Homo sapiens: one gene and its partners. The protein of the gene in region 1 interacts with the protein of each later gene in a pairwise test. Each region holds a gene or a part of one and is shown in the gene's direction. Other genes may lie near its edges.

Evidence for each region.
Region 2: the proteins of PRR3 (region 1) and SNRPA interact in a two-hybrid assay, tested with the Homo sapiens proteins (one large-scale study listed by BioGRID).
Region 3: the proteins of PRR3 (region 1) and HNRNPA0 interact in a two-hybrid assay, tested with the Homo sapiens proteins (one large-scale study listed by BioGRID).
Region 4: the proteins of PRR3 (region 1) and ASF1A interact in binary tests that used the Homo sapiens proteins (3 or more experiments, as listed by UniProt).
Region 5: the proteins of PRR3 (region 1) and PSMA3 interact in binary tests that used the Homo sapiens proteins (3 or more experiments, as listed by UniProt).
Region 6: the proteins of PRR3 (region 1) and KHDRBS3 interact in binary tests that used the Homo sapiens proteins (3 or more experiments, as listed by UniProt).
Region 7: the proteins of PRR3 (region 1) and MYPOP interact in binary tests that used the Homo sapiens proteins (3 or more experiments, as listed by UniProt).

What each region holds. Positions count from the first base shown.
Region 1 is NC_000006.12:30,559,758-30,564,872, forward strand, and holds the end of PRR3 (proline-rich protein 3), read left to right. Parts: intron 1-1,570; coding exon of another isoform or gene 1,571-1,609; exon of another isoform or gene 1,610-2,008; intron 2,009-2,076; coding exon 2,077-2,367; intron 2,368-2,631; coding exon 2,632-2,738; 3' UTR 2,739-3,966; downstream 3,967-5,115.
Region 2 is NC_000019.10:40,760,017-40,763,545, forward strand, and holds part of SNRPA (U1 small nuclear ribonucleoprotein A), read left to right. Parts: intron 1-2,884; coding exon 2,885-3,058; intron 3,059-3,529. UniProt on the Homo sapiens protein: Component of the spliceosomal U1 snRNP, which is essential for recognition of the pre-mRNA 5' splice-site and the subsequent assembly of the spliceosome. U1 snRNP is the first snRNP to interact with pre-mRNA.
Region 3 is NC_000005.10:137,744,290-137,748,474, reverse strand, and holds the end of HNRNPA0 (heterogeneous nuclear ribonucleoprotein A0), read left to right. Parts: 3' UTR 1-2,824; downstream 2,825-4,185. UniProt on the Homo sapiens protein: mRNA-binding component of ribonucleosomes. Specifically binds AU-rich element (ARE)-containing mRNAs. Involved in post-transcriptional regulation of cytokines mRNAs.
Region 4 is NC_000006.12:118,900,048-118,904,733, forward strand, and holds part of ASF1A (histone chaperone ASF1A), read left to right. Parts: intron 1-718; coding exon 719-834; intron 835-4,686. UniProt on the Homo sapiens protein: Histone chaperone that facilitates histone deposition and histone exchange and removal during nucleosome assembly and disassembly.
Region 5 is NC_000014.9:58,261,614-58,266,299, forward strand, and holds part of PSMA3 (proteasome subunit alpha type-3), read left to right. Parts: intron 1-2,091; coding exon 2,092-2,157; intron 2,158-3,751; exon of another isoform or gene 3,752-4,686. UniProt on the Homo sapiens protein: Component of the 20S core proteasome complex involved in the proteolytic degradation of most intracellular proteins. This complex plays numerous essential roles within the cell by associating with different regulatory particles.
Region 6 is NC_000008.11:135,582,443-135,587,128, forward strand, and holds part of KHDRBS3 (KH domain-containing, RNA-binding, signal transduction-associated protein 3), read left to right. Parts: intron 1-4,686. UniProt on the Homo sapiens protein: RNA-binding protein that plays a role in the regulation of alternative splicing and influences mRNA splice site selection and exon inclusion. Binds preferentially to the 5'-[AU]UAAA-3' motif in vitro.
Region 7 is NC_000019.10:45,888,838-45,893,114, reverse strand, and holds the end of MYPOP (myb-related transcription factor, partner of profilin), read left to right. Parts: intron 1-835; coding exon of another isoform or gene 836-945; intron 946-1,791; coding exon 1,792-2,492; 3' UTR 2,493-3,092; downstream 3,093-4,277. UniProt on the Homo sapiens protein: Transcriptional repressor; DNA-binding protein that specifically recognizes the core sequence 5'-YAAC[GT]G-3'. Dimerization with PFN1 reduces its DNA-binding capacity.

The sequences.
Region 1 (5,115 bases):
AAAAAAATTAAAAATAGAATTACCCCAGAACTCCTGCTTCCAGGTATATATCAAAAAAAAAAAAATGGAAAGCAGGGTCTTGAGATATTTGCAGACTCATGTTCATAGCAGCAGTATTCACAATAACAAAGAGGTGGAAGCAACCCACATGTCCACTGATGGAAGGATAAATGTGGCGTGTACATACAATGGAATATTATTCAGCCTTATGAAGGAAGAAAGTGCTGTCACATACTACAACATGGATGAACTTTGAGGACTTTATGTTAAGTAAAGACATAGTGTATTATTCCACTTATCTGAGGTGTCTAAAGTCAAATTCAGGGGCTGGGCATGGTGCTTCACGCCTGTAATCCCAGCACTTTGGGAGGCCAAGGCAGGCAGATCACTTGAGGTCAGGAGTTCGAGAACAGCCTGGCCAATATGGCAAAACCCTGTCTCTACTAAAAATAGAAAAATTAGCTGGGCATGGTGGTGCACACCTGTAATCCCAGCTACTCGGGTAGCTGAGGCATGAGAATTGCTTGAACCTGGGAGGCAGAGGTTGCAGTGAGTCGAGATCACGCCACTGCACTCCAGCCTGGATGACAGAGCAAGATTGTCAAAACAAAAAATAAAAATAAAGTCAACTTCAAAGAAACAGTAGAATGATGGTTACCAGAGGCTGGGGGAAGGAAGCTGGAGGAAGGGGAGTTTTGTTTAATGGGTACAGAGTTTCAGTTTTGCAAGATAAAAAACTTTTGGAGGTCGGGCATGGTGGCTCGTGCCTGTAATCCCAGCACTTTGGGAGGCCAAGTCGGGCGGATCATGAGATCAGGAATTCAAGACCAGCCTGGCCAATATGGTAAAACTCCATCTCTACTAAAAATACAAAAATTAGCCAGGCGTGGTGGTGGGCGCCTGTAATCCCAGCTACTTGGGAGGCTGAGGCAGGAGAATCACTTGAACCCAGGAGGCAGAGGTTGCAGTGAGCCAAGATCGCGCCACTGCACTCCAGCCTGGGCGACAGAGCGAGACTCCATCTCAAAAAACAAACAAAAACTTGGAGATCTGTTTCACATCAATATGAATATATGTAACACTACTGAACTGTACACTTAAAAATAGTTAAGATGGTAATTTTTATGTGTTTTTTACCACAATAAAAACCGAACAAAACAAGGCATGATGATTCATGCCTGTAATCCCAGCACTTTAGGAGACCAAGGTGGGAGGATCACTTGAGCCCAAGAGTTCAAGACCAGCCTGGGCAGTGTGGCAAGACCCAATCTCTCATTAAATAAATAATAATAACCAAACAAAAAAATAACCACCACTTTTCACACTCACCATGGCAAAATTTAAAAACCTAACAATTCCAAGTGTTGTCAAGGCTATAGGACAACTGCTGGTGAGAGTGCAAATTGGTATAACCACTGTGAAAAAAAAGTTTGGCATTATGTATGAAACTTGAGCATAACATATACTTTATAAGCCAGTAATACCTCTACTACGTATATATTCAACAGAAATGCATACGTATGTGTAACAACATGTATAAAAATGTTTATAGTGGCATTTCTCGTTATAGCCCCAAACTGGATACCACCCACATGTCCATCATCAGTAGAATGGATAAATAAATTGTTGTGTATGCATGCAATGGGACTACACTGCAACGAAAATGAATGAACTGCTGCTACAGGCAACCTGGATGAATCTCACAAACATGATGTTGAGCGAAAGGAGCCAGACATAAAAGAATGCAGACTGTATGATTCCATTTTTGTGAAGTTCAAAAACAGGCAAAAACTAACCTATGGTGTCAGGATAGTGGTTACCTTTGGGGAGGAGGGTGGGTAATGGGAAAAGGGGCACAAGGGGAGGATCTTTTGAGGTGCTAATAAGGCTTTATCTCTTCACCTGGTGGTGGAAACTCAAGTGTGTCTACTTTGTGAGAACTGGGTTGTGCACTTAAAACTGGTGTGTCTTTATGTATGCTGTTCTTCAATAAAAAAAATTTTTTTAATCACGGTTTATCAGGATTCAGCTGCCCATTAGACACCTTTCTGTGTCTCTCTCTCTCTCTCTCTCCAGCTCTTCACAGAGGTCCTCCAGGATCAAGGGGACCACTGATTCCACCACTGCTGAGTCTCCCACCTCCTCCTTGGGGTAGAGGCCCAATTCGGAGAGGGCTTGGCCCCAGGTCTAGCCCATATGGTCGTGGTTGGTGGGGAGTCAATGCAGAACCTCCTTTTCCGGGGCCAGGCCATGGGGGTCCCACCAGGGGAAGCTTTCACAAGGAACAGAGAAACCCTCGAAGGCTCAAAAGCTGGTCTCTTATCAAGAATACCTGCCCGCCCAAGGATGACCCCCAGGTTATGGAAGGTGAGGTCCATTTTGTTATGCCCATTACTCCCAGAGTGACCTAATTTTCAGAAGATCATTCACAATCTTCTCTGGGCTTTCCTTTTTGCTTTTGAAGCAGAAGTAGACCTCAATGTTATTTCTCCCAGGAGAAAGACTACCATTCCAAAATACCTGGAAATGGTAGGGGGTAGAAAATCAGTTCTCCTTCTGTCTCTGCGTTTCATTGTATTTGTTTTCTTTGTTGCTCAAATTTTTAACTGTTCCATTTTCACTTGTTCACAGACAAATCCGACCGCCCTGTCTGCCGACATTTTGCCAAAAAGGGCCACTGTCGATATGAGGACCTCTGTGCCTTCTACCATCCAGGCGTCAATGGACCTCCTCTGTGAGACTGTGCCTTCCCATCCAGGCTGGAAGGAGCTCTCTGTGACCTAGCGGCCATTTATTTCTCTGTAGCCCTATGATGGCTACTGTGAGGCTCTTCTAACACCCTCAGTCAGTGACACACCCATCCCATCCACCACTTCCCCCGTGTGGGGTCCAGAGTGGTGTTGCATCACTGGTGCGCGGCATACGCGCTTTCTTCTGATCCAGCCTGTAGAGACTCGCCTTTGGGACCCATCTTTGCTTCCTTTCAGTTGCCTCCTGGATCTTCTTTCCCGTCATCAAATGACTGCTGAACAGGAAACCTCTTTGGTGCTGTTTCTTGTGCATCTGTCCACCTGTTCCCCAGTATTGCCCTCAATTCCTGAGAGCCCTGGAGCGGTTTCCTACCATTCCCTTCTTTTAGCTGCTTGTTTTAAGTCCTTTTTATGTGACATTCCCTACCCCCAATGTTGTCAGCTGCTTGTGAAACTCAGCCAGGTTGTCTAACCTGGGGTCAAGTTTGGGTGACTGGTGCAGAGTTACTTCCTAAAAGGCCACTCTCCCTGCCTTTGGATTTCATAGTTTCTCTGTCAGTAGCATGATCCCCACCGCTATGGTCTATCTATGATCACCGTGCTTTGTGAAACTGTGCATCCCCTTGTAGCCTTTCTCAGTGTCCGTGGCATTTTTGTGACTTCCCAGCACTAGAATAAGTTTTCCTGCCAAAATGAGTGAGGCGCTTGGTGCCCTCTGGACTTTCCCACTTCCCAACATGGGAGAATTGTGAACTTTCCATCAGACTGCCTCCCTGGCCCTCCCCATTCTTCTCCTGTTGGTTATTCTGAGTCTGACACAGACCCATGACATGTCTTATAAAGCCTCCAATGGCTTTATCCTACCTAGATCCCTTCCAGCCCATTTTAATTAGACTATGTCATTGTGAGGCCACCAGTCCATTCATTTGAATTCTGTGAATCTCCACCTTGCCTATCTTTGGGTAGAAGCTGGACAGTACTGTTGCCCTCTTCCAATCCTCTTCCCCTACATCCCTGGCACTGGTTGTTTTCTGTGAAAACAGCAGTGAACAGGTTCAGTTTTGAACTGGCCCTGAGGAAATGGGTCAGGAGTTGTATTGGCAAGAGGGAGGGGTGAGAGCTGTTGGAGAACTGAGAATGAGGTTTTTTTTTTTTTTTTCTTTTTAACTTTTTTTATATTAGTAATAAATGCAGTGGAAACCAGCATTTTATTTAATCCCTGTGTTCTAGTCATCTCTGGAGTTGCAGATGAAGCTGTTCTCACCTGGTGGAGTCAGCTTATTCTTTAGTTCATACACACTAGTGATGGGGAATGACAAAGCTTAAGGTTCTTCCAGGCTGAAAAAAACCAATGGAGGTTCCATTAGCCTGTAGGCATCAACCAGAACAAGCTGCCTTATGTTCAAGGGCAAAGTTTTGTAAGAAAAAGGAAAGGCCAGGTGTCCGTGGAGTTATTTTTAAATATTTTACTTTGCAGAGTTTGTGTTTATGGAGTGGTAATGATGAAGGAGTCTTTCAGCAGCAATTTGCAGAATGCCTGTGGGCCAGGCAATATACCAAGCACTAGAGATAACTGACAGCCAAAGCCAATGGATTTAAAATGTACAGGGAAGACAGGTTTCTCATAATCACAAATAGCATGTAAAGTTAAACCTGTCAAAAGTGCTGGGAAGAAGACAGGGAAGAAAAGAGGGTGAAAGAGAGTTGTGTAATAAAGGGAGTCAGGGTAGGAGATGCAACTGAGACAAGCTCCAAAGGATAAACAGGAGGTGGGGTGGGAGAGGGAAGTCAAGGCAAAGGTCTTCGCTAAAAGACCTAGGGGAAGAGGAGCTAAGAAACCTAGGGACAGTGGGAGATGATGCAGAAGAAAGAGGAGTTAGACCACTCAGGGCCTTGGAAAACATGAAGATTTGGCTCTTTTCTTAGAACAGAAGCCTTTGAAGAATTTTAGACAGGAGTATCATGGCTTAGGCTGGCTTTTCAAAAAAAATCAGCTTGTATGGAGAGGGCCCACCTTGGACCTGGAAGTTAATTAGAAGGCTACTGGCTACTTCAGTAGTACAAGTGAGCCATGATGGTGACATAGACTTGGGTAGTAGAGTTGGAGAAAAGTAGACATTTGAAAATTACAGGTCAAAATAAAAGTATCAGATTTCTCCAGGTAGTTCTGGCTTATGTAACTGCCATTTAAAAAGAAGTCTTAAGATAGAAGTTTATGGCTGGGCGCGGTGGCTCACGCCTGTAATCCCAGCACTTTGGGAGGCCAAGGTGGGTGGATCACGAGGTCAGGAGATCAAGACCATCCTGGCTAACATGGTGAAACCCCATCTCTACTAAAAATAGAAAAAAAATTAGCCAGGCGTGG
Region 2 (3,529 bases), on another chromosome or scaffold:
AGTTTTATTTATTTATTCATATTATGTTTTGAGACAGGGTCTCACTGTCACCCAGGTTGGAGTGCAGTGGCGCCATCACAGCTCACTACAACCTCCGCCTCCCAGGCTCAAGTGATACGCCTCAGCCTCCCTAGCAGCTGGAACTGTCAGTCCGTGCCACTCCACCCAGCTAACTTTTGCATTTTTTGTAGAGACGGGGCTTAGCCATATCACCCAGGCTAGTCTCAAACTCACTGTCTCAGCCTCCCAAAGTGCTAGGATTACATGCATGAGCCACCATGGCTGGCCCCCAGTTTTATTTTTATATGCCAGTAACAGACCAGTAGACTTCACATTGAAAAGTAGCACTGAGGGGTAAATCCAACAAAAGGTTTGCAGAACGACTACACTGAAATCACAGAATGTAGCTGGGAGAAATCAGAGACTCAGCAATGGATAGGAAGACTCAGTATTGTCAAGAGGTCAGTTCCATCCAAATTAATTGAAGATTCAACGTGATTGCAATCAAAATCCCACCAGGAATTTCGGTAAACACTGGACACTGATTGGCTCTTTCTAAATGTGTGGAAAGACAAGGCCAAGCCAGGCGAGGAGAATAAAGCACCAGGACCTGCATGACCAGGGGAAGCTCCAGCAACCAGGCCAGGCCCAATGGCTCATGCCTGTAATCCCAGCACTTTGGGAGGCCAAGATAGGAGGATTGCTTTAGGTCAGGAGTTCAAGACCAGCCTCTATAAAATAGCAAGACCTCATCTCTACAAAAAATAAAATAGAAAACTGGGCGTGGTGACTCATTCCTGTAGTCCCAGCTGCTCAGGAGGCTGAGCTGGGAGGATCGCTTGAGAACTGGAGGTCAAGGCTGCAGTGAACAGTGGTTTTGTCACTGCACTCCAGCCTGGGTAACAGAGTGAGACCTTGTCTCTTTTTTGTTTTGTTTTGTTTTCTTTTGTTTTTTTTCGGGAGGGAGTCTCAGTCAATCTGTCTCCCCAGGCTGGAATGCAGTCGTGCAATCTCGGCTCACTGCAACCTCTGCCTCTCAAGTTCAAGTGATCTTCTGCCTCAGCCTCCCAAGTAGCTGGATCACAGGCACATGCCACCACGTCCATGTGCAAAAAAAAAAAAAAAACCTGCAGCAACCAACCAGGATGATATACAGTTGGCAGAAGGGTAGGAAGACAGACCAAGGGGACAGGATGAAGAGTCTAGGTACAGCTACACTTGTATAATTACTTGATGTGTGATCGAGGTACCACTGCACTTCACTGAGGAAAGGACTTTTTTTCCCCTAGTTCATGATGCGGGGCAGTTGGGTATCTGCAAGGGGAAAAAATTAGCCCTACCTCATACTATATGCAAAATATAACTTGAAGTGAATTGCAGATCCAAATGTGACAACTCACAAAATATAGTTTCTTTTCTCTTTTCTTTTCTTTTTCTTTTTCTTTTTTTTTTTTTTTTTTTTTTTTTTGAGACAGAGCCTCGCTCTGTAGTCCAGGCTGGAGTGCAGTGGTGTGATCTCAGCTCTCTGCAACCTGCGCTTCCTGGGTTCAAGCGAGTCTCCTGCCCCTGCCTCCCGAGGATCTGGGACTACAGGCATGTGCCACCACACCCAGCTAATTTTTGTATTTTTAGTAGAGATGGGGTTTCACCATGTTGGCCAGGCTGGTCTCGAACTCCTGACCTCAAGTGATCCGCCCTCCTCACCCTCCCGAAGTGCTGGGATTACAAGCGTGAGCCACTGCACCCGGCCCTCACACAATAAAGTTTCTAGAAGAAAACAGGAAAATGTCTAAATGACCTTGGTGAGGGCATGAAAAGTGGAAACATCCTGTTTTCCAAACAGGATACAAAAAGCACCGAGTACAAAAGAAAAGATGGATGAACCAGGCCCACTCCTTAGGTCTCTGAGCCTCCGTGTCTCTCTGGCTTTCATGAGTCTCATGGCTCTGACTGGGTCATGCTCTATTCGGTGCCACTCACACTTTCTCCAAGTTGGTGATGGTGTCTGGATTACTGTGGGCTCCTGTTAACCTCTCTCCTCTTCCCTGCACCTAGTTTTCTGTCCACTTTGGACTTCAGATTGTGATTCCAGCCCCTGAGTGTGCTGCCTGCCATCTGTTGTCTTCCCTCTTCCCCTTGCTGCCACGCGTTTTGTTCTGCACCTGCCCTGAGTGTCCCTTTCCATCACTGCCCTCCTTTGTTTTTGTTTTTGTTTTTTGAGACAGAGACTTACTCTGTTGCCCAGGCTGGAGTGCAGTGGTGTGATCTCGGCTCACTCCAACCTTCTGTTGCCGGGTTCAAGTGATTCTCCTGCCTCAGCCACTCTAGTAGCCGGGATTACAGGTGCCCACCACCACGCCTGGCTAATATTTGTATTTTTGGTAGGGGCGGGGTTTCACCATGTTGCCCAGGCTGGTCTCAAACTCCTAACCTCAGGCGATCCGCCTGCCTCGGCCTCCCAAAGTGTTAGGATTATAGGCGTGAGCCATCGTGCCCGGCCTACCACACATTTCTTTCTGCACCTGCCCTGACTGTCCCTTTCCATCTCTTCCTCTCCTTTGATTTTGTTTAAGAGACAGGGTCTTGCTCTGCCTCCCAGGCTGGAGTGCTGTGGCACAATCAGAGCTCACTGCATGCAGTCTTGACCTCCTGTGCTCAAGTGATCCTCCTACCTCAGCCTCACAAATAGCATTTAACTCTTTCTGATTTAATGTCCCACTAGACCCTGGGTTTGTTTTGCTCTGTCGGGCCCTCTTTGGGTGCCTTTTGCGCCTCTTTCTGGGTGTTTTTCCTTACATCTCTCACCCGCTAGGTTTCCTTTCATGGCCTCTTCTCTGCCTCCTGGGGCTGCTGTAACCACGCACTCTCCTCCCTCTCTCCACAGGGCATGCCGCCGATGACTCAGGCGCCCCGCATTATGCACCACATGCCGGGCCAGCCGCCCTACATGCCGCCCCCTGGTATGATCCCCCCGCCAGGCCTTGCACCTGGCCAGATCCCACCAGGGGCCATGCCCCCGCAGCAGCTTATGCCAGGACAGATGCCCCCTGCCCAGCCTGTGAGTATCTAGTCCCACCCACCAGGTCTCATATAAATAGTGAGAATACAGGACTAGAAAGGGACCAGTTGGGGGGCTGCTGTAGGTTGGGTGGTCTGGGCAGGCCCCCTGAGGAGGTGGTACTGAATGAGGAAGTAGCAGTGGGGGTGGGCCCTGGGCAGAGGAATTGGCATGCTGGTTGGAGGGTACGGAAGGTTAGGGTAGGCTGGAGTGGTGCCAGCACCTAGATTGATTCCATGAGCTATTGAGCGCCTCCTTACGTGCCAGGCCCCGTTCTGCACTGTAGGGCTGCAGCAGGGACTGAGATAGAAACCTCTGCTGTCCTGTGGCCTATAGTCTGTAGGGGCAAAGAGGTGGGAGGCAGACAGGCAACAGACAACAATATGTGGTATGTTGGGTGGAAGTACCAGAGTGAATTCAAGCAGGGTGAGGGATGGAGGAAGTGGCAGTACTATGGGTCTCCCACTGGAC
Region 3 (4,185 bases), on another chromosome or scaffold:
CATACTTTTATATCTTAGTACCCGAGATATGCATGGTCTTTAGGCTTTGCTCTTTACTTGCTGGGTGAGCTTCCATGTGGTAGTTCTCTAAATCACTGCTGCTTCAACTCTAGTAGGAGAGAGATGAATTCTGCTAGCCATCTGTAATGTTTTAAGTATTTGTTAATATTAGGAAGGTATAAATAATGTGAGTGTTGAGGAGAGGTGACTTCAGGTAGGAAGAAGGATCAAGAGAGGCATTGTGGAGCATATAACATTTAACCTTAAAAGATAGGTCTTATAGAGAAGGTGGGAGGAGAAAGAGGGCATTTTAGGTGGAGGACAGATAGGCAGAAACATGGAGCGTATTTGGAGAAGTATGCATATTGGATGCCAAACACTAGGTACATTTACAAATGTTCTCATTGCATCATTCAGTAACCTTCACAGATAAGGTTGCTAAATCTCATGCCAGAAAAGTAACTCCCAAGGACCCCCAGCTGGTGACATGGTAGAACTGAGAGTTGAATCCAAGTTTGACCAATTCTAGTTGTTTCGCTCCTTCTACTAAGCTTCATTGACTTCCAGCTAACAAATGTCTAATTTGTACTAAGATAAAAGAGAGTTGTGAGAAATAAATTGAGAAAATGAAGTTGGAACCAGGTTACTGAGGTCTTTGAGTAGTAGGCTAAGGAGTTTGGACTTAGGGTAGGCAGTAAAAGTCATTAAAGGTTTTTGAGCAACAATAATGGTAGTGAAACTAATTCACAAAGATTAGTCCAGTAGCACTGAGTAACATAAATGGCAGTGGGGGATGTTTCAAAGTGGCAAGTTTGCTAAGACAACTGATGTTAACCAGGTAAGAGAATGAGAGCATGAACAAAGAGCAATGGAAATAGACTGACAAAGAAGTTGAGGTAAGTTGTGAAAGCATAATTGACAAATATTTGGATATATGAAGAATGAGGAAGAGAGAGTAGATTAATCAAAATTACTGTGTGAGAGGATGGTGATGCCACTGGTAATAGGAAGAGAAGATTTAGAGGGAAGATTTGGACATAGTTGAAGATGCTGGTAGCACATTGAAGCATTGTGTCTTGCGCATATAGCTTTACAAAATGGCCATTGTGCTGGATATTCTTTTTGCCCTTCCTGATCTATTTTCCATCTTTATCTCTCTTGTTCTGTGTTCCTGGGAGGCTGACAAATAAAGAACTGCATACTCTCTTTTCTGGCTTTATTCATGGTGGGTTTGGACAGTGATAGAAAAGTGAGGCTGAAATATTTGCTCCTTCTCTTTCTCATATACTTAGCAAGAGATTGTGAGTGGCCACAGCTCTGCTCCAGTGGCCCTCTTATAGCTCTAGGTCTTTTCTGGCTTCTCGTAACTGTCTCCTATTGCTAGATTCTCTAGTCCCAAGAAGGTTCAAACCTTGTTGATTTGCCTTAACTGTGCCCATACCCTTGTAAATAGTTCCTTTTATTAAAACTCTTCAATAACTGAATATACTGTGGTCATCTCTTCAGTGAAATTAAAAAAAAAAACTTCTTTCACATTTTCTTATGACTTGATCTTCCCACACCACCAAACGTGAAGATCTAGCTATTTGCACTAGGTTACTATCCCTAAATTCAGTGCCTCCCTGTTTCTTAGTATGTCAAGTTAAAATTTGTTACTCTTCTGCTGGGTGATTGTGCTGGAAATACAGAAGAAAAAGACAAAAATCCCTGCCCTCAAAGAGCTTATATTTTACTGGGGAGAGACAGGCAATAAGACATAATCAATTATATGGTATGTTAGAAGATGAGAAGTATAGAAAAAATTAGGGTGAGGAATGGCGATTGTTGCAAGGGATGTTTGTGAGGATAGCATACTTTAAAATAGGTGGTATGGGTAGGTCTCTCAGAAAGTGACATTTGAGCAAAGACTTGAAGGAAATGTGGGAGTGAGCAATATAGGTATGGGAAGAGCATTCTAGGTAGAGGATTAGGAAGAGCAAAAGCCCTGAAGCAGGACTGTGTCTGGCCTCTGAAGAAATGCAAATTGTTCAGGGTTGTTGGACCTGAAGGAAGAGGAGGAAAGGAATAATGAGGCCAGAGGGGCCAGATCATGTAGGGATTTGTAGGTTGTTGTAAGGATTTTGGTTTTCACTAAATGAATGGTGAACCATTTCAGTTTTGAGCAGAGGAGTTCCATGATCTGATTTGAATTTTAAAAGATGTGTTTCCCAAAATTCCTATTCCTTTCATACAGCTGCTTTCAATGAAGGTTTATAAGGAAAGCAATCAGAACTACTTGGATAAGGTATAAGTGATCCACAATCTTTTCAACTCTACCATAGGTATCTACATATATATGTTGAGAGATGCTGCTTTTTGGCCAAAATGAATCTTGAATTGGGGGTGTGCAGAAAAAGTTATATCTGGCCTGAGGCTGGTATCTTTTAGAGTGGCCTACTTGCATGGTTGGCCCTTATCTGAACACGTGGATTTAGGGGTATTCTCACTGTTCACTAATAAAGGTGGTTCACTGTACCTAGACTGTTCAAACAAGATGATTTATGCTAAACACCTGCTTTCCTTCTGGGAGTATGGAATTTTGGTACATGCCAGGTAAAGGATGTCTATATGACCAAACTCCCAATGAAAACCTTGCATACTGAGTCCCTAGGCAGAAACATCCCTCGTATAAAAATGTGCTCTGTGTGAATCTTCATGGGAGGGAGAGATCCTAAAGAAGCCTGCACATGGATTCCTCCAGATTCTGCTTATGTCTTTTTCCTGTATGATCCAACTGTGTACACTTACTGTGTCACTGTAATAAACTTTAGCCATGAGTACGATACTTAGCAGTGCTGAGTTTTGTGAACCCTTCTATCAAATCTCAATATGGGCTTGGTCCGGGGGATCCCTGACACAGGCAGATTTTTTTTTTTTTTTTCAAAGAGTCACCAAGTTAATTGGAAAACATCAGGTTATGGATAGAAGGAGCAGTTGGGCAACCTGTCACAGAAGTCAGCCAGCTCTGTCTAGTGGAGAGCTCTTCTGAGCTGTTTCTGCTTTGTTAATTCCTTTTCTTTCTCCAAAAGCTTCCCTCCATTTGGTTTTGTCACACTTTATACATTTGTAACAAACTGCTGACCGGAATTTGTCCATCAGGTTATGAAAAATGGCAAATGAGGAGAGTAAAATTATGGATTTATTTATTAAGAACTATTAAAGTATTCATATGCTCTGGGACACCATTACTAGGAATTTAACCTTAACAGAACAGTTTATTGAAAAATTTATTGAAAGGAAAACAGTCTTTGCATAAAAATTATGACGTAGCAAAAAATTGGAAACTAAATGTCAAATATTAGGGAAATGTTAACTGTGGTCTGTCAAAAGGTGAAATATTAACTCAGTGTTATCAGGTGAATGAATTAACAAGATGTGGTATATACATACAATGGAATATTCAGCCATAAGAAAGAATAAATTTCTGGTATATGCTACAAGATGAATGAAAACATGCCAAGTGAAATAAGCCTGCACAAAAGGACATACTATGATTGCACTTAAATGAGGTACCCAGAGTAGGCAAATTCAGAGAGATAGAAATGGGAAATTACTGTTTAAGGGATACAGAATTTCTTTTCAGATGTTGAGAAAGTTCTGAAAATGGATAGTGGTGATTGTTATACAACATTATGAATGTACTTAATGCTGATGAATCGTATATTTAAAAATGGTTAAAATGGCTTTTTTTCTTTTTTTTGGAGGCCGGGTCTTACTCTGGTGCCCAGGCTGGAGTGCAGTGGCATGATCATAGCTCACTGGAGCTTCGAACTGTGGGCTCAAGTGATCCTCCCACCTCAGCCTCCCCCGTAGCTAGAACTGACTACAGGCACGCGCCACCACAGCTAGCTAATTTAAAAAATCTTTTTGTAGAGATGGAGTCTTGCTATATTGCCCAGGCTAGTATTGAACTCCTGGGCTCAAGTGATCCTCCCACCTCAGCCTACCAAAATCCTGGGATTACAAGTGTGAGCCACCACACCTGGCCTAAAATGGCAAATTTAATGTATATTTTACCACAATAGAAATTGTAATGAAAAAATATATTATTTAACATAATAAATATGTAAGTATATTAAAGTAGTGGGATGAAAAAATTGTATCTTTTAAATATTTTTTTAAAGACAAGGGCTTGCCCTGTTGCCC
Region 4 (4,686 bases), about 88 Mb from region 1:
GCCTTGAATTGCACCTGAATGTCTTTTCCTCCTGCCTATCTCCACTGTGTATACTCTATTGTATCACGTGGTGTAAAGATCTTGGTTTCCTCTGCCCAATTTAAAGAATGTATGACACAGGGGGGTGCCGTAAGGGAAAAACCCTACCATTGTTCGTTGACAGTTGATGAGCTGAAGCCACTTACTTCTGAGCCATGAGGGAGGTTTTACTAATAATTTTTCTACTTTGGAGCTCTGTGATTATTTGGATCTCTGCAGCGTAGTATAGGGCTGCCCTTCCAAAGTGTGTTGAGAAGGGCCTTAAAAGATGATATACAAAAAAAGGGGGATTCCATAGCCAAATAAATTTGGGAAGTGCTGGATTAATGTTACTGGTGTTCTTTACTGAAGGATATCTCAGAAAACTTACTGTGCCAGCATGCTTTATGAATCCTCAAGACAAGGTTTACAGCATTTCCCAAGTGTTTGGCTATGTTATCTTGTTTGTGAGGCACTGTCCAGGAACTAGTGTTTCACAAAAGAGTATTTTGAGAAACTCTGATCAAAGTGTGAACTCTGGTAGGAACTTTATAAGGAGCATTTCACTGCCTTTCTGGATTGCTATGAGAAGCCAATTTTAAAGCCAGTAAGTGGCTAAGTGGACATTAAAAGGGTCTTTGATGTCATCTGGTAATGTAATTACTGAATATGAAATAATGCTTTGGTTTTTTAACCCTAGACTTGGAATGGAAAATTATCTATGTGGGCTCTGCAGAAAGTGAAGAATACGATCAAGTTTTAGACTCTGTTTTAGTGGGTCCTGTTCCCGCAGGAAGGCATATGTTTGTATTTCAGGTAAGATTAATCTTGGTAAATGTGTATGCCAAATATGTTTCGAAGTAGACTATATTATCTATTATCTTATAACCCTTATCCCTTTCCTTTTGGGTTAAAGAACTGCTTCTGCTGCATTCACTTTAAATCTGTTTCCATCATGTTTTAGGCAGTCTCTGTGTCACAGAGGAACTCTTACTTCCTGGTTTTATATGCTGAGAGATGTTAATGTGACGTTTACTTTAGAGAGATGAACAACCTACAGTAAATTTTATACTGTATCATGGCACACAGGGTGGTGAATTTGGGGCTCTTCCTGTGAATAGCACCTCAGTATCAGACTTCCAAGGTGGCTGTCTAGCAACCCAAAACATGGATTCAAAATATCTAAAACTAACTGGCATTGTTAGTAATATGCATCTTCAGTTTATGGTTTCAGCCACTGGAACTGATGGTGATGTAACAAAAACAACTTTATTTCAGCATAATCAGTAGTTGAGCTAGGTTAACAGATACGTTTAGTGGATAGAGATGTGTGGTCTTGGGTCATTGGAATGACATTCCAGAGTTTACTAAAGCATCTTATAATCTACATTATCTTATAAGAGGACTACTTTTGCAAATTTACTACCCCACTAGGTATTTGTGAAGAGAATTTCTAGTAATAAAAATTTTGTTCTTAGATACCACTGAGAGTATTTGGATCTATACCAAGGCTTCAGACATTGTCTTCTATATTCAAAAGTGTTATTTCTTTTAATCCATGTTAAATTGCTATATGGAACCATTCAGTTATTCCTCAATTATGCATGCTTATTTATAAGGGAGATGTTTGTAATAGACCAAAGAGTAACTAGCCATAGGTTTTTTAAAACTACTATTAATTTCTGTTACAAGTATTTCAACCCAGCAATGTCCCATCAGTTAAGTGGAACTCACTGAAAAGACTTAATCCAGAAAGAAAATCTAACTCTTCCTATGCCTGACCTCTGTTTTCTCACTTCACAGATGGGACCAATTTAAATGAATACCATTGGTCAAATAATCCCATCAGAAACTGGCAAAGAATCACTTAGACACATGCCATCTCTAGAGCTGCTACCTTTCCCTCCCCTGTCCTAAATACAGAATTTAGAATCTTGGTTTCCTAGCCTTAGTACTTTTGATTAAAAAGCAACAAATAATTTACTGTATCTAAAGAAATAGCTAAGAAAAGCTCAAATATACTAATCAAATATATGAATTAAAAGTGCTGTTAATCAAAGTTGTGTGAGTGCATAACCATGTAAAAGACATGGGTAACAGAATGCCCTGTTCTGTAGAAGGAAGCACTGCAGTTATAGATATAGGTCAAATCCCGACACCTCTGTATTAGCCATGTGTGGCTTTACCTCTCTAACCTCCTCCCTTAGTCATTCCAGTCTTCTATAAAATGTGGATAATATTCTATCTCATTAAAATGTTATGGGGAATAAAACAGTATAATCAGTCACTCATAAAGAGTGCCCTATTCCTAAAATTAGAACTACATTTTTATTCTCTTAACTTCTTGAAATTGTTATATAAAAAAGCAGGACTTGCTCTGACCCACAGGCCTAAGGAACCCATACTTTACTGATAATTCATGATACAGTAAAAGAAACCTGGGTTGACAGGTACTGATAATACTTTTTTTTTTTTTTTTTTGGCTACTATAAGAACTTACAAATAAATGCCTTGTTATTGAAACAAACCCTTGAAAATCTTTTGTGTTTGTTATTAAGCATACTCCTAAGCTTTTGGCTGAAAGTGCTGTAGCAAAAAAAATGTATTCAAAAGTATTTCCTGCTGGTGATCTTCACGTAGTTTTACCTTGGTGTCAGTGTACATGTTGCCAAAAAGAACAGAGGAGGTACAATGTATATTCAGCCTAAAGGTTTTACAGAATTCACCATTATCAACAGAAAGAGACTAAATTACAGCTTTTGTTTTGTATTTTAAAACTACTATAGTAATCTCTTGGTCTGCCATGATTTTGCCTCTCTAAATAGTTAAACATGTCTTTCTTCTGAGTGAGTCAAAGGCTAGCAGGAAGATGTCCAGACATCTGCCTAGTATTGCCAGCTAGAGTCAAAACAAAGATCTCTGCTCATTACTTCTGCATCCTAAATTATTTGAAAGGCCTGTAAGCTTCTCTACTTAAATTTGCTCAAACTGAATCTTTTTCAAATTGTAAAATGCTTTTTAAAAGATGTTTTATATTTACAACAGATTTTAAAACAGAAACATGCCTAGAACCAATTTACTGAAGGGAACCAATTTACTGAAGGGAAGGGGAAGAGTTCTCATAGCAGTACTGAACTATTATATATTTCCCATCTCCACCCACTTCAGGTATATTAGAATCCGTTTGGGTACACTGAAAGTAATCTAACCCCTCTGTGCAGGGGTGTGTAGAATCTCTAAGACAAACAGCATATTCTCCAGGACAAGGCTGGCTGTCCCCTATCCTGGTGTCTTGCCAAGAGATCATAAACCCCTTCAGGGCAGGAACTGATTTACAAATGAATTCCAAAATACTAAGTGCTCAGAGCTGAGCCACACGAGATTATAAAGATGAACTGGATGGGACTCCTGCCCTGGATAAAGCATAGCATCTAGAAGAGAAGACTGAAAAATAAACATGTTTAGATCACAGGGCATACGTTCTTAGATAATTTGTGACAAGAAATATCAGCACATAAAAAAGGAATCTATTGATTCTACCTTCTGAGTTAGAAAGGGCGTCACTGAGAATACACTCGATGTAAGCTCCAAAAAAGATTAAAAGATGAATTTTTCAGGATGTGAGCGAAGGACCTTTCAGGCCAAGGGAACAGTATGTTAGAAGCACAGGGGGTGAAGTATTTCTTTTTTAAATTTGTTTTTGTAGAGATGGGGTTTCGCCATGTGGCCCAGGATAATCTCAAATTCCTGGGCTCAAGTGATCCACCCACCTTAGCCTCCCAAAGTGCTAGGATTACAGGCGTGAGCCACCGTGCTCAGAGCGTGAAAAGATTATCACCACGTTTTAAAGAACCTGTGTGATTCATATCTCTAGAACAATGGTGGAGTTAAAGGAGGTATGAATGGAGATATTGGCTGGAGACAAACTGAGAAGGGCCTTGTCAATGAAGTTAAAGAACTGAGATTTTATCCCTTAGAAAAGGGAATACTCTTCTGAGGGTTTTAATAATCTGAGGTTTTAAAACCAAAGAGAAAGAACATATCTGTGTTAATGCTGGTAGCAGTGCAAATGATAGGCTAGAGCTGGGGAGATCAGTTAGAAAATTCTAAGCAATATTCCAGATAGGAGATGACATGAATTCAGCCTCCAGAAATGAAAAAAATGTTGAGACTGACTAGATGTAGGAGATAAGGGAGTGAAGCTGACTGAGGTTTTTAGCCTAGGACACTAGGTAGCGATTTTATGCCTTTTTGTATCATCTACCTGTGTTAGGCATACAGTAAACAACAGTCTTCAATTTTCACAAGCTAAGGCATTGGCTAAAGTGCTCATCTAGGCCCAGGAATATTCCTTGGTGCCCTGGCAACAGGTAAGCTAATTTGCTGGGACTTGATCCATTTACCACCCAGAATGGCTGCCTCAGATGCCTCAGCCATCACTGCCTGTGTTCCCCAGTCTGGCTCCTTCCATCCGGTCGTCTCATTACTACCTGCACCCTACCACGGATGGGGCCCTGCCCTTCGCTCATGCTCTTAGTCTAGTCTAACTCAGTTTACTTTCTGCATTCCTCAAGGTTCACCTTACAATAGCTTGATTTAAAACAAGGTCTTTGACATCTGCCTAAAGCAATCCTTACCTTCACTGGTTTCCACATTATGTGTGGTTTA
Region 5 (4,686 bases), on another chromosome or scaffold:
AACTGTATTTAATGTCTTTTTTCCTCATTCTTGCCCAGGCTGGAGTGCAGTGACACAATCATAGCTCACTTCAGCCTCTCAACTCCTGGGCTCAGGCGATCCTCCTACCTAAGCCTCCCAAGTAGCTGGGACTACAGGCTCATGCCACCATGCCTAGCTAATTTTTGTATTTTTTTGGTGTCTATAGAGACAAGGTCTTTCCACGTTCCCAGGGCTGGTCTCAAACTCCTGGCCTTAAGCAGTCCTCCTGCCTTGGACTCCCAAAATGCTGGGACTACAGGCGTGAGCATCGATGTCCAGCCATGTCATCCCTTTTATTTTATTTATTTATAAGATGGAGTGTCACTCTGTCTCCCAGGCTGGAGTGCAGTGGCTCGATCTTGGTTCACTGCAACCTCTTCCGCCTCCTAGGTTCAAGCAATTCTCCTGTCTCAGCCTCCTGATTAGCTGGGATTACAGGCATGTACTACCATGCCTGGTTAATTTTTGTATTTTTAGTACAGATGGGGTTTTGCCATGTTGGCCAGCTGGTCTCCAACTCCTGACCTCAGGTGGTCTGCCCACCCCGGCCTGCCAAAGTGCAAGGATTACAGGCGTGAGCCACAGTGCCGGACCTAATTTTGTTTCAGACAGCGTCTCGCTCTGTCACCCAGACTGGAGTGCAGTGGCGCCAAACCTCCACCTCCCCAGTTCAAGCAATTCTGCCTCAGCCTCCCGAGTAGGCTGGGATTAGAAGCATGCATCACCACACCCGGCTAATTTTTGTATTTTCAGTAGAGACGAGGTTTCACCATGTTAGCCAGGCTGGTCTCGAACTCCTGATCTCAAGTAATCCGCCCACCTTGGTCTCCCAAAATGCTGGGATTATAGGTGTGAGCCACCTTGCCCTGCCTTCCCTTTTAAAGAGAAGGTTTAAATGTGATTTCTAAGAGCTTTCCCTAAATTATTACCATTTTTTTTTTTTTTTGAGACAGAGTCTTGCTCAGTTGCCCAGGCTGGACTGCAGTGGTGCAATCTTGGCTCACTGTAACCTCTGCCTCCCGGATTCAAGGGATTCTTGTGCCTCAGCCTCTCAAGTAGCTGGGATTACAGGCCTGTACCATCACACCTGGCTAATTTTTGTATTTTTAGTAGAGACAGACTTTCACCATGTTGCCCAGGCTGGTCTGGAACTCCTGGCCTCAAGTGATCCACGTGCCTCAGATTCCCAAAGTGCTGGGATTACAAGCACTTTGTGTGAGCCACTGCACCCGGCCTGTTACCGTTTCTTAACTGTTTTCTTATCCTTACATTTTTGTCGTTTTTACTAATTGAAGAAAATGAAGATTCTTAAATATATTTTGCTGTAACAGAAGTATATATGTGTACATCCTTTTTTTTTTTTTTTTTGATGGAGTCTCACTCTGTTGCCCAGGCTGGAGTGCAGTGGCGCGGTCTCAGCTCACTGCAACCTCTGCCTCCCAGATTCAAGCGATTCTCCTGCCTCAGCCTCTGGAGTAGCTGGCATTACAGGCACCTGCCACCACACCTAGCTAATTTTTTTGTATTTTTAGTAGAGACAGGGTTTTACAATGTTGGCCAGGCCGGTCTCCAACTCCTGACCTGAGGTGATCTGCCCACCTTGGCCTTCCATAGTGCTGGGATTACAGGCATGACCCACCACACCCAGCTGTGCATCCTTATCTTTAAAAAAATTTACAAAATAATAAAATTGGGGGTTTAGAGTACTGAACTCATAGGAATTAACTTTATTTCTGTCTCTCAGGAATATATAATTTCATTTTTCATTGTCATAGTGCTAAAATCTTTTCCGTTCCTGTTCCCCAAAATGTCTTAAAGTGTATATGATTACATAATTTACATATTTTTGGATATACCTTTATTAAAAATACAGGTTGTTTTGGAATTGTTTGGTATTTTAGTATTTTTGAGCCCTTTGGCATTCATCAGAATGTGTTTGACTATATTTTTCTATACTTGCTTTTAAAAGTCATTTAGCATCCTTTCACTAGGTTATAGAAACATTAGTAGTCATTAATTACATATGATAGTGTACTAATTCAGTGATTATATATATTTTTTTCTAAATAGGGTTATTGGGGCTGTGCCATCGGCAAAGCCAGGCAAGCTGCAAAGACGGAAATAGAGAAGCTTCAGGTAATAATTAATGCTTGAATTTTTACTATGTCGTCATCCTAATGCAGTGAAATTTTATCACCACAGACATTTCAGTCTAAGGCAGGGATGTCCAATCATTTGGCTTCCCTGGGCCACACATAAAATACACCAACACTAATGATAGCTGATGAGCTTAAAAAAAAATCTCATCATGTGTTAAGAAAGTTTACGAATTTGTGTTTGGCCCCATGTGGCCTGTGGCTGGGGAAGCTCGGTGTAAGGATATAGTGTGGTTTGATGTTGAGAGTTTATGAAGCTGCTAAGTCACTGAATGGGAAAGCTGGTAACATATTATCTGTAGAGTTGTGTTATACATCCCTTTATAGATTCTGAATAACTGCTATAAAGCCTCAATCTAGAAAAACACAACTTTTGATATGATTTCACAAAATCCTTGAAACCTATTTATGAATCTCTGTGAGCTCTAGTTTGAAAATTTTGTTTAAAATTTTGAGTTAATAAAAAGTTATATTTTTCCTATATTCTTTCTTTGGAACACAGCTTTTATGTCTGGCTGTGCTCCACCGGTTCTCTTAGCTTTGCTCCTAGCCAGGTAAGGCATAAAGCCTACACTCTTACGACTACCCACTTTTTCTTTCACAAAATTCAGCTATTAGTGTGAAAAAGTTTTCTTAAAAACTTGGTTTTCCTTTTAGCCATGCGTTGATCAACTTAAAGACTTCATGGATACTGTTTCAATATTATTGATTACCTGTCAGAAACTTGCCTAAAAAGCAGGCATACCATTTATCAGTGTTTTGGTAAACTGAAGTGAGATACAATTTCACATACATTTAATGTTAATGCTGTACTAGAACCCTGCTCAACTAATTACTCATTCAACTTATTTAAGACCAGCTTCTAGAAAATACTTATTAGTGCTTGGCATTTATACAATGCTAAGTTCTAGAACCCCCTATAAAACCTAATTTGTTTCGTATTTTAGTAAAGCTGACAAAAGGATCTTAGAGGTCATTTAGCCCAAGCTCAACTGCAGATTAAACACACTGCATAGGACCACAGAATCAGCTGGTTCTGAACAGTATCCAGACCTTATGAGTCTTAGACCTATGTTCTTTTCCATTGCACACTTACTAGTATGATGCTAGGTTCCTATCTTCTACTCTTTTCCTTTTGTTTTCATCTCTCCATACTATTATATGGAAATTTGAAAATTAGAATATTTATGTCAGTTGAGGGGGATTACCCCTGTAATCCTACCAGTTTGGTAGGCCAAGTTGGGAGGACTGCTTGAGCCCAGTAGTTCCAAGACCAGGCTGGGCAAAAGAGTAAGACCCTATCTCCCAAAACAAAATGTTAGCGAGGTGAGGTGGTGCGTGCCTGTAGTCCCAGCTACTTGGGAGGCTGAGGCAGGAGGACTGTTTGAGCCCCAGCCAGGAGTTGGGGGCTACAGTGAGCTATGATCACGCCACTGCACTCCAGCCAGGGCAACAGAGCGACACCTTATCTCAAAAAAATAAAGGAAATTAGAATATTTAGAGCAGTTACTATCTGTCTTTCTGTAGTTAAATCCTAGCAAGGAATGGGAAAAACAATAAATCCCAGAGAAAAATCAAGAAAAAAAAATCACTTTAATTGAGGAACACTTTCAGTTTGTGACAAAATTATGCTGTGAATCAGGTGTTGCAAATTATGGCCCACTGCCTGCTTTTGTGTAAGTTTTATTGGAACACAGCTACATTCAGTCCATGGCTGCTTTTAGAATACAACAGTAGACTTTAACATTTGGAACAGGGAACAGAAACCAGAGCCATACAGCTAATAAACTTGAAAATATTTACAAGTTGATGCTTTACAAAATCCATCTGCTGACCCCTGCTCTGTACCATTGTTCTCTTCTGATGGTCTGTTTACTAAAAAATAAAAACTTCACAAACATGTAAAAAATAGATTTGCCATTTAAAATGTGCTTTTCAAGTTTGACTTTTTAGGATGCAATTAATTCACTAAATACAGAACTTAACTAAGGACAAAAATTTAAAGATCAGCATTCTTTCCCTTCCCATCACGCTCAACTTAACATGAAGAACTGTAAACATCCTAAGCTTACAACAAACCTATCTAGTTAGACTTCAGTTAACCACTTACACATCCCCCTCCCCCATGAACTATTTGGAAAAAGCTGCAGGCGTAATATTGGATCCCTAAATACTTTATTCTCCTTATACCATTATCAGACCCAAGTATCATCTAATAGTCCATAATCAAACTGCCTAAGCAGTTTCTACACTGTCTTTTTAACTATTTCAAACTATCAAGGTTCGCATTTTCTTCCTTAGAACTTTTAGTCTTTTTCTTCCCCAAAATATTTGAGTCCATGCCAGTTGCCTTTAGTTGTACCCAAATAATGGTTTGTCTATTTCCTAAAAGTAGTACTCTTAAATTTAAATTTAGTGTTATTTTTGTTGTCATTGTTCCTTCTTCCTCATGTGGTTGTGCAGGCAGAGCTTGAGCATCCAGATTTCAAAATTAAAAAATAAAAGATAA
Region 6 (4,686 bases), on another chromosome or scaffold:
GGTTTCCGCCTTAACTGTTTCCTTTTAAGCTACTCTGCTGAGTATGGATTCTTAGTGGAAATTCTTTTCAGTAAAGAAAACAAAAGTTCTCTATTTTCAATTAGTGCAAATCAGTTTTTCATTTATCATTCAGCGATTCTTTGATATAATTCATAGACTGACTTAACGTAAGAGAGAATAATAACCGTGAAAGTTGAGGGGGAAGGGAATTCTTTGATGTCCTCATTTACCATAAATGAAGAAAATAAGAAGCAATGGATAGGTGATTCATATTAATAATTGAAATTGTTAAAGTAAGTGTATGTGAACCATTGTCAATGAAAGGGAAGCAGTAACAATGATAAAATGCAAGTATCAGTAGGTTTTCATTGTTTTACTTTAGGAGAGATCTCTTGCTAGGTGCTCTGTGCCTCTTTGCATAGTTTCTAGAAGGTTGCAATAATCCCCTGGGCCTCAGACAACCTCTTCAACCTCATCTGTGTGGCCACTGGTAAGATCAAAGTCTTTGTCTTGGACATATTTAAGTTTTTGTAATTCCCTGAACATTCTGTGTCATCTTAGTCTTCCAGACCTTTGCTTATACTGCCTCCTCAGCCTAGAATGGTGTTCTTATGTTTCATTTGACTGTCTCCTTGTGTCCTTCTACACGTAGGTCAATCATTGCTAGGGAAATTTAGAGGTGGTAATAGCTAACCTGTTGAGCATTACTACAGTTCTTACATTTCTCTCTCCCACCTAGCTTGTGAACCTCTGGAAGGGCAGGAATGGATAGCTTTTATCTCTTTATACTTGGGAGAGAGTGCATACTGGGAGCCCACTGAATTATATTTTAACAAATCCCGTAATAGTTTTACAAGTTTGTTATTCAGCTGAGGAAGGATGTGTTTCCTCTCTTTGAATTCGTTACAGTTAAATGTGTTCCTACTTCCTAATAATCTTACCAGATGACAATAATAATTATGCCTCAGCTCTTCCATAAATGCTGAGTCTCCTGAAAGTATCAGGGACTCTAAAGGAGAGTAAATCTTAAATTCCTTTTAGGTAGGCCCAGTGTCTGTTCATTTCCACTTTGGCTTACATTGATTTCTTAGGTTTAGATTTAATACAGATGTGGTTGGATGATGTAGTAGAAATTGCCAGGCAGGTTGTGTGGGAAACCTGGATCCTATACCCCATTTTACCATAAATTTTAATATCGGGCAAGATATTTAACTTTTTGGGCTTCATAATCCACTTATTTCAGAAAGAACTATTGCCTTCATTACATGTATTCATCTTTCCATTCAATAAAGATTGGATTTCTACCGTGTGAGCCAGACACACATGTTGTCTGTCTCAGCATGTATACTCTAATTATTAGAGTCTGGAAATAAATTATATAGATTAATAAAACTGAAAAATTCTTGAAAGGTTAAAGTCCAAAGGAGGAAAAGCAAAAGCAAGAGACATTCAAGACATTTGGGTTTGCTGCTTGTACTTTTGATTGTTTTATTTATTTTTTATTTTTGTAAATGATAGGAAAGGCATTAAAACAATTGAATTGAGAAGTATTCTGTAGGATTAATTTACTCCCTTTTCCATCTGCTACCAAAGATAATGGGATAATGGCCCTGTAGAAGATTACCTGCGTTTTTCCAGAACCAGACAAAGGTTTAAGAGCTCTAAAGGAAAAAGTCAACCTTCATTGTTTGATTCCCACACTCACTCATGCCTGGCACTCTTCCAGGCACTGACTGTTACTGCAGCTGTGATTTCAACACAGAGCCAGTGCTCTTTCTGTCACATGGTAGCGTTGCCTTCAAATAACTGACGGTCATATCCGCCAGTGTTGTAATTTGGCTGGAATGCAGTATTTGCAATTTTATCAGCTTCATACAATTACAAGTCTTGCATACATAAAACAGCTGTGTGCTTTCCAGGTGTGCTTTGGGTGGTATAGTGGGACACCAAAGGAAAAGAAATACCATCATGAGTGCACCTCCTTCCCCGAGTTGAATTATCATCATGAAGGGTTCAGATTACAAACGTTATAGCTTTCCCACTTAATTTAGCATCTATTATTCCTGGCAGTGCCTTTTAAGATTACTAGTCAAGAGAAAAGATTTTCCTCATTTAGCTTAGCATTTTGTGAGCTGCCTTGGCACAGTTATAGTAAAAGCTTCAGTGGCTTTTTCAGTATAGTAAAAGCTTCACTGTATATAACAAACTTTGCTGGTACTTGGTATAAGGAGTAGATAAAGCCCTTCAGCTTGCTTACAGTGGCTTGCCATCAGTAGCACTGCCTTGCAGATACCCGTTTGACCTCATCTTCCTCCACTGACCCAGTTTTCTACTTCCAACTTTTCTAATACAGCTTGCAACCTCTGGCATAACTTCAGACCTTGGCCATTGGTCTCAACTGTTTGAAAACCTAAAGATTACTCACCCATCACGCTTAGTTTTGCAGCATGGTAGGGGGAATGGGAAGTAAATTCTTCTTAAAAAATTTTTTTATGTTGGGCTCGGCACGATGCTCACGCTTGTAATCCTAGCATTTTCAGAGGCCAAGGTGGGCACATCACTTGAGGTCAGGAGTTCAAGACCAGCCTGGCCAACATGGTGAAACCTCATCTCTACCAAAAAAAAAAAATACAAAAATTAGCCGGGTGTAGTGGTGCGCACCTGTAAACCCACCTACTTAGGAGGCTGAGGTGGGAGAATTGCTTGAACCCGGCAGGTGGAGGTTGCAGTGAGCTGTGATCGCCCCACTGCACCCCAGCCTGGGTGACAGAGCGAGACTCCGTCTCAAAAAAAAAAAAAAAAAAAGAAAAATCGTTTCTTTGTTTCTTGGATTTTAGATAGGGTGGGTGTATTATAAGATACCCAACTTAGAAAACCAAGGAGCTTGTAACACAAATAAATGGTTATTCATTCATGCATCAAATGGGAAAGTTGGCCATCTTTGAATATACTAAAATTATTACATGGAACTAGAACATCTTAAATTAGATTCTAAATTCCATGAGGGTAGGCACTCTCCCCCTGCCTCCCCTTCCTCCCACCCACCACACTTCACCTTTTTATTCCCAATAACTAGTATATAATGTCTGGCACATAGTAGGTCTTTAGTAAATATTTACTGAATGAATGAATGAATGGTCACAAGATGGTTTTTAAAAATTGTCTCCTGCAGAGAACCCACCACAGATGCCTTCTGTGTGATTTTTCAGTTTTATTCACATAGCAATTTTTATGTAACATAGTATTTAGTATATAGCTATGTAGAACAATCATAATATGTCCAGTTTTCAAAAGATTATTAACTTCTAAGGAAAAATTCTTTATCTCTAGGTTAATCTCTGGCTACTAGCTCAGTTTTTGGCACATTGTAAGCACTTAGTAAATGTTCGTTGGACTGAACCAACCCTATACAGAGACTTGATAACATTGTTCAGATGAAGATTACCATTGATTTTTTCTAAGTTCCTGGTAAAAGCATGTGATGGGAAGAAATATGATAGTATTTGAGAAAATAACTTTCCTAAGTTACTGTTGTCTTCTAGCACTGGACGGGTAGTCACAGGTTACAAATGAATAAGATTAATTTTGTTAGCTCCTGAAGGAAACAGAAAAACCTACTGTAAATCTCATCTCAGTATAAAAAGGGGCTTTAAAGAAGGATGTAATATTTGATGAGAAACTGCTCTCCACAAGGCACTTTGATATATGTCACGTTTTCCTTATAACCACCTACTATGATCTCTACTGTACAAATGAGAATTTAAGGTCAGGGAAGTTAAGTGCCTTGCCCAAAGTCACAGGACTGGTAAAGAAGGAGCAGATTCAGGATTCAAAGTTCAAGGCCTATGTTCTGTCTTGAAAAACCAGTGCTTTAAAAAACAAAACCAAAAAAAAAAACAGTGTTCCACTAGCCGAGGTTATAAATAAAATCTCTTCATCTTTGGAGAAAGTGTAACAGATGCTGCATGTTCCCTTCATCAGAAATGCCATAAAAGGGATTATAGGACACTGAATTAAATAACCTCTGTGTTCCTTGCAATTCACTAATTCCCTGGTTTTAAGCTACCCGAAGTAGGTAAATGGAAATGAACTGTTAGGAAGAAAGGGATGATGTTCGGATTAAAAAAATGAACAAAGCGCTACTAATACATTTATTGGCAAAAATAAGAATAACACTTTCATTTAAGAATTTCTCAACATCTGTACCTCTGAAAAGGGCTTGTCATTTCTTTGGAACTCAGAAACGTAATTTTTAAAAATCTCCTTGGAATATATCCAGTGATAAAGGTTTGATTTCTATACAATGTGTTTGGCTATATCAAACCAACTCAGTTTACTTTTCATCAACTTTCATTTAAAATTTACTATCTGAGGCCATTATTTCCAGAATAAAAGATGAAAAAAGATCACATCAGTGGTTTACTTAAACAAAATGAGGAAAATTCTATTTTTTAAAATCCTGCCACAATAGCTGCATTTTTCAGAAAGTATGCATTTCAATCTTTAAAGATACTCAGTGATTTTCAGATTATGTGTACTGCAAGTATTCTGATATAGTTTTAGGCCCAAGAAAAATTTAGTCAACGGTATCTGTTCTAGTTCTTTTTAAATACTTATATTATGCCCATTTTAGAAAACGTACTGTTAGCCAAAGTGAGAAAACTTGACAATTCTCAGGTATTTCCT
Region 7 (4,277 bases), on another chromosome or scaffold:
TTTAGTAGAGATGGGGTTTCACCATGTTGACCAGGCTGGTCTTGAAGTCCTGACCTCAGGTGATCCACCCGCCTCGGCCTCCCAAAGTGCTGGGATTACAGGCATGAGCCACCACATGCGGCCAAATTTGCCTATTTTGGACATTTCATATAAATGGCCCCTGTGATCTGTGGTTCTTTGTGACTAGCTTGTTTCCCGTAGCCTAACTGACTTGTATTTTGGTTGGACCCCTCAGGCTGCTGGTGGAAAAAGATACTGTCAGGGACAGGGGTGGAAGCAGAGAGCCCTCAGGGAGGCGATGACTGCAGTGGTCCTGGTGGGAGATACTGGTGGTTGGGCCAGGGTGGGGGACCAGGAAGAAAGAAGTTGTATGTATTTAATTTGAAGGCAGAGACGATAGCTTCTGTATGTGGATGGTGTCTTAGTAAACAAAACAGTGAAGGTGTTTAACCTGAGCAGCTGGGAGGATGGAGCTGCATCAGCTGAGATGGGGGTGGCTGAGGAAGGAGCAGGGTGGGGGAGGATCAGAAGCCCAGCTCCGAGCAAGTGAGTTTGGGGCGTTTTTCGACAATTGAGAGTACACAGCTGGAGACAGGAGTCTGGAGCCCAGGCGAGAGGTTCAGGCTGAGCCCAGGAAGCTGGGAGCCCCTGTATGCAAACTGTTCAAGCCCATGAGCATGAATGAGACCCCAGGTGAGTACAGACTGAGGAAACCTACCAGGCTGGGGGCTGAACTGGAAAATCCTGCTGTCCTGGTTGGAGAGAGTCTCAGGGAAGTGTCCACCAGTGCCCAGACACCCCAGCTCTCTCCCAGACCTCTCTCTCACTTCCTCAGGATCCAGCAGTGTGGTGCAGTATCCATATAGTTCAGAACCTCGTCAAATGTTGGCCCTTGTCCGAGCGCAGTGGCTCACACCTGTAATCCCAGAACTTTGGGAGGCCGAGGTGGGTGGATTGCTTGAGGTCAGGAGTTTGAGACCAACCTGGCCAACATGGCAAAACCCCATCTCTACTAAAAATACAAAAATTTAGCCAGGCGGGGTGGCGCCTGCCTGTAATCCCAGCTACTTAGGAGGCTGAGGCAGGATAATCGTTTGAAGCCGGAAGACAGAGGTTGCAGTGAGCCGAGATCACGCCACTGCACTCCAGCCTAGGCTACAAAGTGAGACTTTGTCTCAAAAAAAATTAAAAAAATAAAAAAACTGTTGGCTCTTACTGTGAGTGAGATGGGAGCTGCCTGGCCTAGCAAGGGACTTCCAGGACCTGTTTCCACTAAAGCTGGCAGGACTTTTTCTCCTCCGGGTACAAAGACTGGCCTGCCATGGAGCTTCTCTTCCAAGGCATGATCTGACTTAGGTTTTAAAAGGATCATTCTGGGGCCAGGCGCGGTGGCTCACACCTGGAATCCCAGCACTTTGGGAGGCCAAGGCGGGCGGATCGCCTGAGGTCAGGAGTCCGAGACCAGCCTGGCCAACATGGTGAAACCCTGTCTCTTATTAAAAATAGAAAAAGTAGCCGGGTGTGGTGGCGGTCACCTGAAATCCCAGCTACTCGGGAGGCTGAGGCAGGATAATCGCTTGAACCCAGGAGGTGGAAGGTGCAGTGAGCCAAGATTGCACCACTGCACTACAGCCTGGGTGACAGACCAAGACTGTCTTGGGGCTGGGGGGCGGGGGTGAGAAGGATAGTTCTGGGTTCGGGTAGGGGGGAGGTGAGGGAAGGAGTGGGAAAGGGGAAATCAAGGCAGCATCGAGGGTCGCTCACCCCTTACCTGTATTTCTCTCTCTACAGATACATCAGCCCACAGCAAGGCGGGCTCCAGCAGCCCGGAGCCATGGGCCCGGCCCTCCTGCACTCCCCAGGAAGGGGGCTGCCCACGGCCCAAGGAGCGTGAGTCACCACCCCCTTCGGCCCTGCAGCCGGTCCAGCTGCCTCGCCTGGCCTTGTCTCCACCACCCCCAGCCCCTCCACTGCCACCCCCACCGCCACTGGCCCAAGTGGCACCCTCACCCCCTAGCCCCCCACCCCCTCCTCGGCCTCCACCCACGCTCTCGGCCTCAGACCCCTCCCTGGACTTCCTGCGGGCCCAGCAGGAGACTGCCAACGCCATCCGGGAGCTGGCCGGCACCCTTCGACAGGGACTGGCCAAACTGAGCGAGGCCCTCAGCGCTCTGCTGCCCCTTCTGCCAGGAACCCCAGTTGACTCCCTGCCTCCACCTCTGCCCCCACCCCCACCCCCACCGCCACCTCCCAGGCCTGTCCTGCCCCCACCGGCCCCCAAGGTGGAGATCACCCCAGAGCCCGTGTCCGTGGTGGCTGCTGTGGTGGACGGGGCAGTGGTGGCAGCCAGGGGAGTGATCATTGCCCCAAGGAGCGAGGAGGGGGCACCCCGGCCCCCCCCAGCCCCGCTCCCTCCGCACGACTCCCCCCCACACAAGCGGAGAAAAGGTTTCCCTACACGGAAAAGGCGCGGCCGATGGAAATCTCCGTGAAATCTACTATCTATGATCCTGCCTGCAACCCCTCTCCCCAGCTTGGCGCAGTCGAGGGGGGCGATGCTCTCTGCCCATCCCAGCTGCACCCTAGCTCCCTGCTCCAGGGATGTGAGCACCCACTCCCTGTGCTAGTTAGTGCCTGATTCTCTGGGGGGGGCCTCAGTAATGGGCCCCCCCAACCCCTTTCTCTGGTACAGTGCTGTCTGCCTGGCTGCCTCCCTTAACCCTGACTTCTAAGCCATCAATTTCATGTTATTTATTATTGCCCTATGTGGGGTGGGGAGGGAACCTCTCGGGTCTGCACATCTCCCCTTCCCTAACAGTTCCTGTTCTTGACTTGAAGAGAATTGACCCGTGGGGGACTCCCCACCTCCCCAACCCAGACTTTGGAGCGGGTGGGAGTTGTAAGACAAATCAAAATACGGATGACAAAGAGGATATAGCCGTGTATACCCCAGGGAGAGGAGGCGCCGAGTTCTGATGGGAGAGGTACAGGTTGGGTTCTCTGCCTACCATTGCTGTCTCTGACTTCCAGAGCTCAACCCCCTCCTTTCTCCCAGTGGTGACAAGATATCAATAAACTTATTTTTAATACAATTACTTGAGGCTCTGTCTGAGACAGGCCTGGGGGACCAGCACCTACACCTGCCCCGCCCCCTCCACAGGCAGGCAATTGGGAGGCTGGTGGTTTTCCAGCTTTTTTTTTTTTTTAATTCTTAAAGCCATCAAGTCTTGTGTTTACATGAAATCTTATTCCTACTCTTCCTTTAGATACCAGTCTAAATGTCAACTCCAGGAGAAAGTCCTAGATTCCTTCCCCAAGGCTAACGTGGGTTTGCCTCTTAGAGTCTCTTTCAGTGTCCTGTGGTTCTTTTTCTTTTTCTTTTCCTTTCTTTTCTTTTCTTTCCGTTTTTTTGAGATAGGATCTCGTTCTGTTGCCCCAGCTGGAGTGCAGTGGCATGATCACAACTCACTGTAGCCTCGATCTCCCAGGCTGAAGCAATCCTTCTGCCTCAGCCTCCCAAGTAGCTGGGACCACAGGCATGTGCCACCATGCTCAGCTAATTGTTTTATTTTTCTAGAGATGGGGTTTTCTATGATGTCCAGGCTGATCTGGAACTCATGGGCTCAGGCAGTCCTCCCACCTCGGCCTCCCAAAGTGCTAGGATTACAAGCATGAGCCACCACACACAGCTGGGTTCTTTTTCATAGTGACTCTAAATGAACACAGGCCTTTATCTATTTAAGGCACATTTGCCCATAATGTCATGAAGGCAGGAACTGGTTCTTTTACTCTGCTGCAGGGCCAGGTAACAAAGTAGATAATCACCACCACTCTGGACTCAAGACGTGGCTCAAGTACTGGTGCTGCCCTGGCCAACTGTGTAACCATTGGCTTCCAGTGTCCTCATCTGTAGAATGGACATAAAGATGTCAGAGTCTTTCTTCCTATAATTAGATTATACTTTTCTTTTTTTTTTTTCTTTTTTTGAGGTAGAGTCTCCCTCTGTCGCCCAGGCTGGAGTGCAGTGGCGCGGTCTTGGCTCACTGCAACTTCTGCCTCTCGGGTTCAAGTGATTCTTCTGCCTCAGCCTCCCAAGTAGCCGGGACTACAGGCGTGTGCCACTACACCTGGCCAATTTTTGTATTTTTACTTATTTAGTTAGTTTTTTGTTTTTTTGTTGTTGTTTTTTGGTTTTTTTTGAGACGGAGTCTTGCATCTGTCCCCCAGGCTGGAGGTGCAGTGGTGTGAACTCATCTCCTGGGTTCATGGAATTCTCC